Regions from separate parts of the Homo sapiens genome. Here region 1 is linked to region 2. The links come from fine-mapping of genetic effects on gene expression. A gene starts in region 2. The other region holds a variant in brackets. All regions are shown on one strand. Distances are from middle to middle.

Region 1 (4,247 bases), 28 kb after region 2:
GTGCAATGGCTAGTATAAGCGTGCGTTCGAGTACCCCAGGCTCTCCTACACATGTAAGCAGTGGATCGAATGCTAGTCGAAGGAGAAATGGACTCCATGATGTCGATTTGAACACTTTCATATCAGAAGAAATGGCACTCCACTTGGACAATGGTGGAACTAGAAAGCGTACCTCAGCCCAGTGTGGCGATGTCATTACAGACTCACCAACCCATAAACGCAACAGAATGATCTAAACTGCAAACATTTTCACACCCACCATGCTGCTTGAAAGCCACTTGATCCTCAACATATACTATAATTGCAAAGGAAACATGAGGCCATCTTCCCTTGTTCACTGTTTAAGACAAGTGAATTCTATAGTGGTTGCCATAAAAGGAAGTTCTAGGTATTTATAGTAGATGCCTCTTGTAATTATGGCTTTCTTAAAACTATAATCCTAGCAGAGGACATCAGATATTGTGTAGTCGTTAGCAAGATCATCATAGGCAAACATATATCCGTTCCAAGGCTAAAAGTGACCTTAACTGTATTTATTCTCAAAGGGAAAGGAAATATCAGATGTTTATTTGGTTATAGAATGCTTTTTTTTTTTTTGGGTCCATTTCCTGCTGTGTTGAGTATTTTGCTTCAACAGTATTGCCAGGTTCCTAAAATTGTCTAAAAACATGATTTGGCTTCCATTTTTGCAGCTGCACTGTACCATGCACCTGGTTTCTATATAGTAACAGTGTGCAATTCTAATTATTGGACTGTGCCCTGTTTTTAGTTTTCAAATCAATTTCTAATTCTGGTGATTGTGTGATGTAAAGAGGTGCTATGATGGTCATGCAATTAATACTAAATATTGAATCAATGCCCAGAGCTTTATTGGATTCACTTTGTGTGTGTTAGTGCTCTAAAGTAGCAGTATTATTATTAAACTGTCCCCAGAGTAACCCTGTAGGCCTAAAGTACTCAGTTTTAAGACAAACACTACTTCCCATGCGGGGTACTTTCCTTATGGTAAATGTAAACATGTAGACTGCATTCGAGGTGACCTAAAGTAGAGAGGTCATGAACTTTGAGAATGGGCTTCCTTTTTGGTTCAGTATTAGTGAGAGGGAGAGGGAGATGGATGGTGGGGTAGGTTTTCTAGTCTATCATTTTACATTTTTCATGGAGTCCCTGCTTAGTGCAGTTTCCATTGGAATGGGTGGAAGATGATAAAGCTCTCTTTTTTATCTACTAATAATGTGATTGCAACTTAAAATAGCAAAACCCAACTCTCCCTGTCCCTCCAATCCCTCTCCTAAAAAGTTCAGTTTGGAATCTCATTCTGGAAAAGATGGAATCGCATGGAGATTCTCTAGCTGTTAGGTAGACCTAAATAAAAAGTTCTCAATAGATTCCTCTTTTGAGTAAATATAAGACCTCTTGTAGCTACAATGTTTTAGAGCATGTTTCATCTTCATTTTTAATATCCTGAACTGAATGATAGTGTTTTTTTAGATGAAGAACTGATGTCAGCCTGCCAGGTACTGTAATTTATTCTATCATATTATTATATTATATATCAAGTAGGACAGTGAAAAATGTTTCCTTGCAAACTTGTAGTCCAGTATCAGTTACTTCCTATTTTTATCCTTAAAAGACCATTGCAAATCAGTGTAAGGGTTTTTCCAGTAATTACTCACAGCACTTTGTTAAAGTTTGCAATTTCTTCAGCCATTTAATAATATCTTTCTGTGAAGAAACTTTGCTGAGTTAACCATAAATGTTCATTCATTGACTGGGTGGGATGTGAATGGAATGTTAGAAATGTTGTGTGAATTGAAGTTCTGTATTCATTATAGATGTAGCCCTTATTTAAAAAAGTGAATTCCATACTAAAACTAGGAATGAAAGTGAGAGATTTCTAAACTTTTGCGAAAGTGGGTCATTTTTTGTTTGACTATAATAGCAGGAAGAATTATAGCAATCTGTCATTTTACCTGAAACAGACAAGCCTATGTATTATGAATACTTTCAAGCTTCCCTTTGGAATATACAAGACATGCGTTTGGAGTTACCTTTGTTTTTCTATCGTAAATTTAGATTCTGGAATTGGGGTTTGGTGGTGCAATGTGTTGCTCACAAGTGGCCAGAACTCCTATTCCTAAAAGGATTTTGAGATGGAGGAACACATATTTAATTCCCCTTTATGCCTTGGTTCTTGCTCCTCTTTCCACGTTGGATAACAATTTTTTGGTTGTTTTGTTTAAGTTGGTGCTCTGAAGCTTAATCTCAGTACCCTTTACTCTGAATTGTCAAATTTTGATAAAACGTGCCATTTTCTTTGGTAAGAGAAAGCAGGTCTTAATGTCTGCCAGAACACAATTTATATGCCTTATTGGCTTCATTAAACTTTTAGAAAACTTTAGCATTTGTTACTTTTTTCCATTGCGTTTACTTTCAAATGCACCTAATGAATT[T/C]GTCACCCAGTCGCAACTTTTCCCTTCTCTGTCCCATTGCTTTCTCCTTTCCCCGACGCACAGAATAAACATGAAGCTCAGCAGTAGAAGCGTAATGATTTCCCTCAGGAAAAACTTCTGACAGCTAGGTTTTTCAAGGGTTTCCCTGTGCTAGCTGAGATGCAAAACAAATCATGGAAGATTGCATACCTGTGTGGTATTTTAAAAACAAGTTGACTTTTTCAGTTTCTTGAACGGTTAAGGGTGGATTTAAAAACTAGACAGTTTAGTTTTGGGGAACAGAAGCTCTCTTCGTCTTAAGCCAGATTCTCTGATTCTTTTAGACGTCATAGCTCCTTAGTTCTGCTCCTGTCGCCCTAACTTGGCATGGGCAAGTTGAAGTTCATCCTTAGACTGCAGCGTTCTGAGCATGGCTGAAGTATTAAAATGTTTAATATTTTTTAGAGCAAAATTGTTGGAAAGCATTTGGCTGAATCTAAAGACCTGCAGTCAGATTCTTCAATGTGGTTTACCCAACTGGAGTAGTGATAAACACCTTAATCATAAAATGAATAAAAACAAAAAAACCATGGGGCTTGTCTGCAGTTTTGTTTTGGTCATCACATCTGAATAACTTTTTGATGCAATCAAATGAAGTTTAGGCTTTTAAAAAAGAATTAGCTTTCTAAATGTTTTTTTCTAAGGGCTACTGGAACTCATTAAACTCGAATAATTGTGGCTTTGGGCCTGAAGATTTCCATTCAACAGTGAAAACTGGCTAACTTCCTTTATAGTGAGAGGGATGGCCAACATCCAACCCAGAGGGCTAGTCAGCCTCAGAGGCCAGTGCAAGACGCCAAGAGATGATTTTGAAATGGGGCCATAAGTTTAGAAAATTATGAACAGAATGATTGAGTTTTTGGCCTGGCTACTACCTCTAGTGGTGACTACGTCAGCAGATTAATCTCATTGCATTTTACTTTATGTAGTATGTTGTAACCTGGTGCTTCATTCATTAGATTGGTGACTGAGGTATTTAGTCATGGTGAGGATGGGAATCTTCAGAGATACATTCTGGATTTGTGGAATAAAGTGACTAGAAAGGTTCTTCCAGAGCAACCCCTTGTTTAAAGTTATAAGTGTTTATGGTACCTGCTACCCCTTCTGGAAAGTTGTCGGCTTTGATGGTTTAGATGACCTTACCCCATAAGGCCAGCTTCTAGCCTCCCTTTGGAATATTTGAGGTGTGTGATGTTTTAGTGGGGGCAGCATTTGAGAGACGAGCAGGCCCGAGCACCCAGGCTGGCTGTCAGACCGTGTGTTGTGCTGTTGGGTTTGATGGGATGAGATATCCAGGGTTTTACTTCCTATAATGGGATCTGCAGGCTCCTTGTGAAGTTCAGTTAGACAGTAGCCTGTGACGTAGCAAGTCAAGTTTTCGATGGCCCCTCATTTTTTTTTTATTTAGTGCTTAAAAAAAAGATTTAAAACAGCAAAAATCAAGCCACACAGCAGCTTATAGTATATACAGGTCTTTTATACATTAGAAGTAATATGGTGAAATCTTTTTTTTTTTTTTTTTTTTTTGTGATGGAGTTTCACTCTCTCACCCAGGCTGGAGTGCAGTGGCACGATCTTGGCTCACCACAACCTCTGCCTCCTGGGTTCAAGCAATTTTCATGCCTCAGCCTCCCGAGTAGCTGGTATTACAGGTGCCTGCCACCACACCTGGCTATTTTTTGTATTTTTGTTAGATACGGGGTTTCAAATATGGTGAAATCTTGTGACAGAATAGTATTCCCTTGTACAGATAAG
Region 2 (4,521 bases):
CCTACATGTGCAGGCCTGGACTTCCCACGTGCTACCATGAATGCAGAAATGTAGAAATTGACATATCAACAACCATTGATCGTACACTCAGCAGGCAGTTTTATTGATTGATTGATTGATTGAGATGGGGTCTCTGTCACCCAGGCTGGAGTGTAGTGGCACTATCTCGGCTCACTGCAACCTATGCCTTCTGGGCTCAAGCAATCCTCCCGCCTCAGCCTCCTGAGTAGCTGGAACTACACGTGTGTGCCGCCATGCCTGGCTGTGTTTTGTATTTTTTTGTAGAGACTGGGTTTCACTATGTCGCCTAGGCTGGTCTTGAACTCTTGAGTTCAAGCAATCCTTGCGTCTTGGCCTCCTAAATTGTTGAGATTATAGGTGTAAGCTACCATGCCTACCCTCCTAAAATATTTAACTCATATACCTTGTGACTCTAAAATACTATTTCTGAGGATATATATTCAATACACATATGTATATATGCAAGGATGTTCACTGTATTACATATGTACAAGATGTTCATTATGGCATTGTTTATAATAGCCAAAGACTGGTCACAATCTAAATTTGTATCAATAGGGGCCCTGTAAAATACTTTGTAGTGAATCCATACAATGAAATTATTTGCAATATTTTAAAAGAATAAATAAGTCTTTAGGTCCCAATGTGGAGACATCCAAATTATGTTAAGGAAAAAAGGCTTGTAGGATAGTACACATAAAATCATCTTTTTTTTTCCTTAAGAAGGGACATACTTGTATATAGGTACACACACACATACACACTCGACGTACACATAACTCCGTTTTCAAAGGTCACAAGTTATTTCCTGGGAATAGGATTGGGAGGATGTAGAATGAGGTAGGTAGAATGATTTTTGTTTGCTTTTCACTTTATATTCTTCCCTACAATTGGAAACCTGTTTTTTAGCCACCGCGCCAGGCCTAATTTAGCATTTTAGATAGTGATTGATGTTATGAAATAATATAACCAGGCAATACGAGACAGTGTGAAGGGTGCTACTTTAGGCTTGTCCTAGTAGGCTTCCTAAACAGGAGCTATCTGAGGAAAGAGGAGGAGGAAGAGCTTCCAGAGATAGCAGACTGGGGCAGGAAAGAGCCTAGTGTCCCAGGGAAATAAGGCAGGCCAGTGTGTGAGCGTCCAGGCGAGGTGGGGAAGAGGGGGAGTGCGCAAGGTACAAGCCAAGTAGGGGATTGTGTGAGAGGCGCCAGGGCCAGATCCTGCAGGGGTTTGCAGGCCGCGGTGAGGGGGTCAGATTTTCTTCCAAAGCCGCCTTGCTCTGTGCAAGCGCACTATCGCAGGCTGCGGGCGACGCTGCCTCTGGCCGGCGCCCTCCGCCGCTCCAGGCCGGATGGTGCCTCCCGTGGGCATGTAGGTGGGGATGGTGGGTTTTGCCTCTGTGCGGTCACCGCCTGTCTGCGTTGCTGCCTTCTCCGGGGCCTCAGACCCTGGAGAAAGCCCCGACAGGGGAGGGGGGCGCGCAGCCGCAGGGGCGTCCAGCTATCGCGCACTGCGGGGGGAGTAGGGGCGGGCGCAGCGCTCGGCACCGCCACGCGGGTTCGGGCCGGGGAAGGCAGGGGCCGGTACGTGACGCGGGGCATGCACGTGGCCTGGGAGTGTGCTTTTCGGGACAGGTGCGGGGGCCGCCGCGCGCGCAAAGGCGCAGACGCACGCGTGCGGGCACCGGGCACCGTCGGCCGTCGGGTTATCCTTGGCTCCGCGGGCGGCCGCCGAGGTCCTGTCCACCCGGAAGGCGCGACGTCCTCGGGGGACGCCAGGGCGCAGGGGCAACTGAGCCGACTTCGCAACTCGGAAGTTTTTCTTTGGCTGTGATGGTCGATTTGCCCGTCTAAGAAATGGGACTCTGGGCCGGGCGCGGTGGCTCAAGCCTGTAATCCCAGCGCCCTGGGAGGCTGGAAGATCGCCTGAGGCCAGCAGTCTAGACCTCGACAACGTAGCAAGACCCCGTCTCAAAAAAAAAAAAAAAAAAGGGGGAGTACTCAAAAGAATAGGAAAGCGCTTTGCAAACTTGGACACGAGTTGGGCGTTTTATTCACTTTCTCTACTACCCTCCTCCCTTTGGGAGCCCCAGGGGCTGGAGTAAGCACGCTACCACCCACTATACCTCTCAGTGCCCGCGGCACAGGAGCCGCACTCGACTTTGCATCCCCCCAGGGCCTGTACACGCCGGAAAAGCTCCCGCGGGGTGCGGTCGCTGGGCCTCGTCACGTGATCCCCACTCAACGCCCCTGAGCGGGGGGGGGAGCAGCGAGCAAGTGCGCATGCGCATCCCTTCTAGCTCTTCCCCTCCACCCCCCACCCGCCCCCTTGGCTCGGACGCAACCACTGTCAGCTCCTCCCCCTCCTCCTCCTTCATCCTTCCTGACATTCACTCCCTTCCCCCAGCCAATTGGTTACGTCAGGCAGACAGGCCGAAGAACCAATCACGACGCTGTGCTCAGAAGCCGCCACGCGGAACCGGCCGGATCCGACTAATAGGGGCCCTTGGAGCGGCCACGCCTCAACCGGGCAGGGTAGCTTGGGCCCAGTGGGCGGTGCTTCTCCTGTCAGCATGTGGGCGGGGTAGGGCGGGGACCAGCAGCCGCAGAGCCGTCCTCGGCGGTGGCGACGACGACGACGTTGCTCAGTCTTGGGGTGGGCTCCGCGGTGCAGGCCGAGCTGCGCGGAGGGCTCGGCGATCAGCGGCGGCGGCGGCAGTGGGGAGGCCGCAGCGCCATGGGGGGGCGTTAGACAGGCTGCGGCGGCCGAGGCGAGGGGCGGCAGCGGTTATCTGGTCCGCGGCGACCTTCGGCCGGGCCCGGGGGTGGGAAGGCCTGGGGCGGGGGTCGTCCCTGGTTGCACGGGGCCGCGGGGCGGGGCTCGCCGGCCGTCGGGGTGCAGGAGGCCTGGGCCGCTGAAAGGAGAAGGCGCCGTCGGTCGCCAGGCCCTGCCGCCGGGCCGCTTGACGACGACGCTCCCGCGGGGGCCCCGCCTGAGGAGGACGCGGCGGCGGTGGCGGCGAGGCCGCGGGAGGCCGCGGAGGATGGAGGAGCGGAAGGAGGAGGGCGAGGCCGAGATCCAGGAGCACGGGCCCGAGCACTGGTTCTCCAAGTGGGAGCGGCAGTGCCTGGCCGAGGCCGAACAGGACGAGCAGCTGCCCCCCGAGCTGCAGGAGGAGGCGGCGGCCGCCGCGCAGCCCGAGCACAAGCAGCAGAAGCTGTGGCACCTCTTCCAGAACTCGGCCACCGCCGTGGCCCAGCTCTACAAAGGTGAGGCCGCCGCCGCCATCTTGGTACCGCTTGGCCGCCCCCGCCCGGGCCCGGCCCCGGCCCTATCGGCTCAGCGGCCGCTTCGGGGGGCCGCGACGGCGGCGGCCTCGGGGATCCCGGCCGGTGGCTCCGCGGCCCTGCCGCCCCCTCCCCGCAAGATGGCGCCGCGGGAGGGAGGCCCGGGGTTGGGGGGACAGGCCAGAGCCGGCGTGGGGGTAGCCCCGCTTTGGGGTGGTCCGAGGGTCCCCGCTCTCCGGGCCCGGCCACCCGGTGTCCCCCTCGGCCCGGAGACGGGAGAGGAGGAGCCCCCGTCACAAAATGGCGAAGGGAGACGGCGGGGCGGCCCCATTGTGCCCTGAGCCGGCCTCGGGGCGGGGACTGCCAGGGGGGGCGCTTCCCTGCGCCGCGGCTCGTCCCTGATCTGTGCCCCTGAGCTCTGCGGCATCCCCTTTTCCCCGCCGCGACCTCCCTGCCCCCCCGGTCCTCACACTGGGTTTGGGATCCCGAAACCCCTGAACAAAATGGCGAAACCTAATATGGCCGTTCCGGAGTGATTGACGCGCAAATAACATTCTTGTTCTCTTTCTTTCTCTTTCTATGTGTGTTTCTTTTTTCTTTTTGGTTTTTTTTTTTTTTGGCTTGCTTTTCAGACCGAGTGTGTCAGCAGCCAGGACTTTCTCTCTGGGTCCCCTTCCAAAACGCAGCCACCGCCGTCACCAATCTCTACAAAGGTAAAGATAACCTTGCTGCATTGCCGATTCAGGGAAGGGCCGCCTGCGTCAGGGTGTCTGCCCTGCGTTCCAAGTGTGTTTTCTGCTCCCCAGCCCAGCTGCTAACCTTGAATACCTTGCAACTTGAGAATCGCGGCGGTGCTCTAGCTAGATCCACCGGAGGCGATTTTGACACCTCCCTCCGCCCCCCGGGACAGATGGCAACGCCTGGGGACGTTTTTGGTTGGCTTCTCCTAGAAGGGGCTGTTGTTGGGCACCCAGTGTATAGAGGCTGCTGAAGGTCCTGCAGTGCCCAAGATAACCGCCCCGGCCCCCTCTCAGCGAAGAATTATCATGCCCCTAAAGTCAGTAGTGCTCAGGTTGAGAAGCGTTGAGCTGGAAGACGGCTGAGCCTTGCCTCCCTCTGGAAAAGACATTGAGGGAAGATAAGAGTTGATGTTTTTTGTACTACAGTCGGAAGTGGGACGAACTTTATGGAAAAGATTCTTGAGTTAGGCATT

Which allele goes with the higher level. Alleles are on the strand shown, and positions count from the first base shown. SD is a standard deviation of normalised expression in the study named.
For the expression in regulatory T cells of the gene that starts at base 2,664 in region 2, allele T in region 1 goes with a lower level than allele C (moderate effect, 0.60 SD a copy in Schmiedel 2018).

The links. PIP is the estimated chance that this variant, and not a neighbour inherited with it, causes the effect.
Region 1: its variant is the best candidate, but not a certain one, in a credible set for the expression of HAPSTR1 in regulatory T cells (Schmiedel 2018, PIP 0.71).

Annotation. Positions count from the first base shown.
Region 1 is chr16:9,116,677-9,120,923 of GRCh38, forward strand. It overlaps HAPSTR1 (HUWE1 associated protein modifying stress responses), which reads left to right. Exons shown (of 4, transcript NM_014117.3): 4 at 1-4,247. The coding sequence ends at 236. Among named protein-coding and RNA genes, the nearest start is that of HAPSTR1, 27 kb to the left of the region's middle. The variant T/C (reference allele first, on the strand shown) is at 2,454.
Region 2 is chr16:9,088,981-9,093,501 of GRCh38, forward strand. HAPSTR1 (HUWE1 associated protein modifying stress responses) reads left to right here and starts at 2,664. Exons shown (of 4, transcript NM_014117.3): 1 at 2,664-3,290; 2 at 3,941-4,021. The coding sequence starts at 3,065. RefSeq lists enhancers at 829-1,694, 3,964-4,133 and silencers at 1,605-1,735, 2,524-2,593, 2,764-3,103, 3,314-3,813.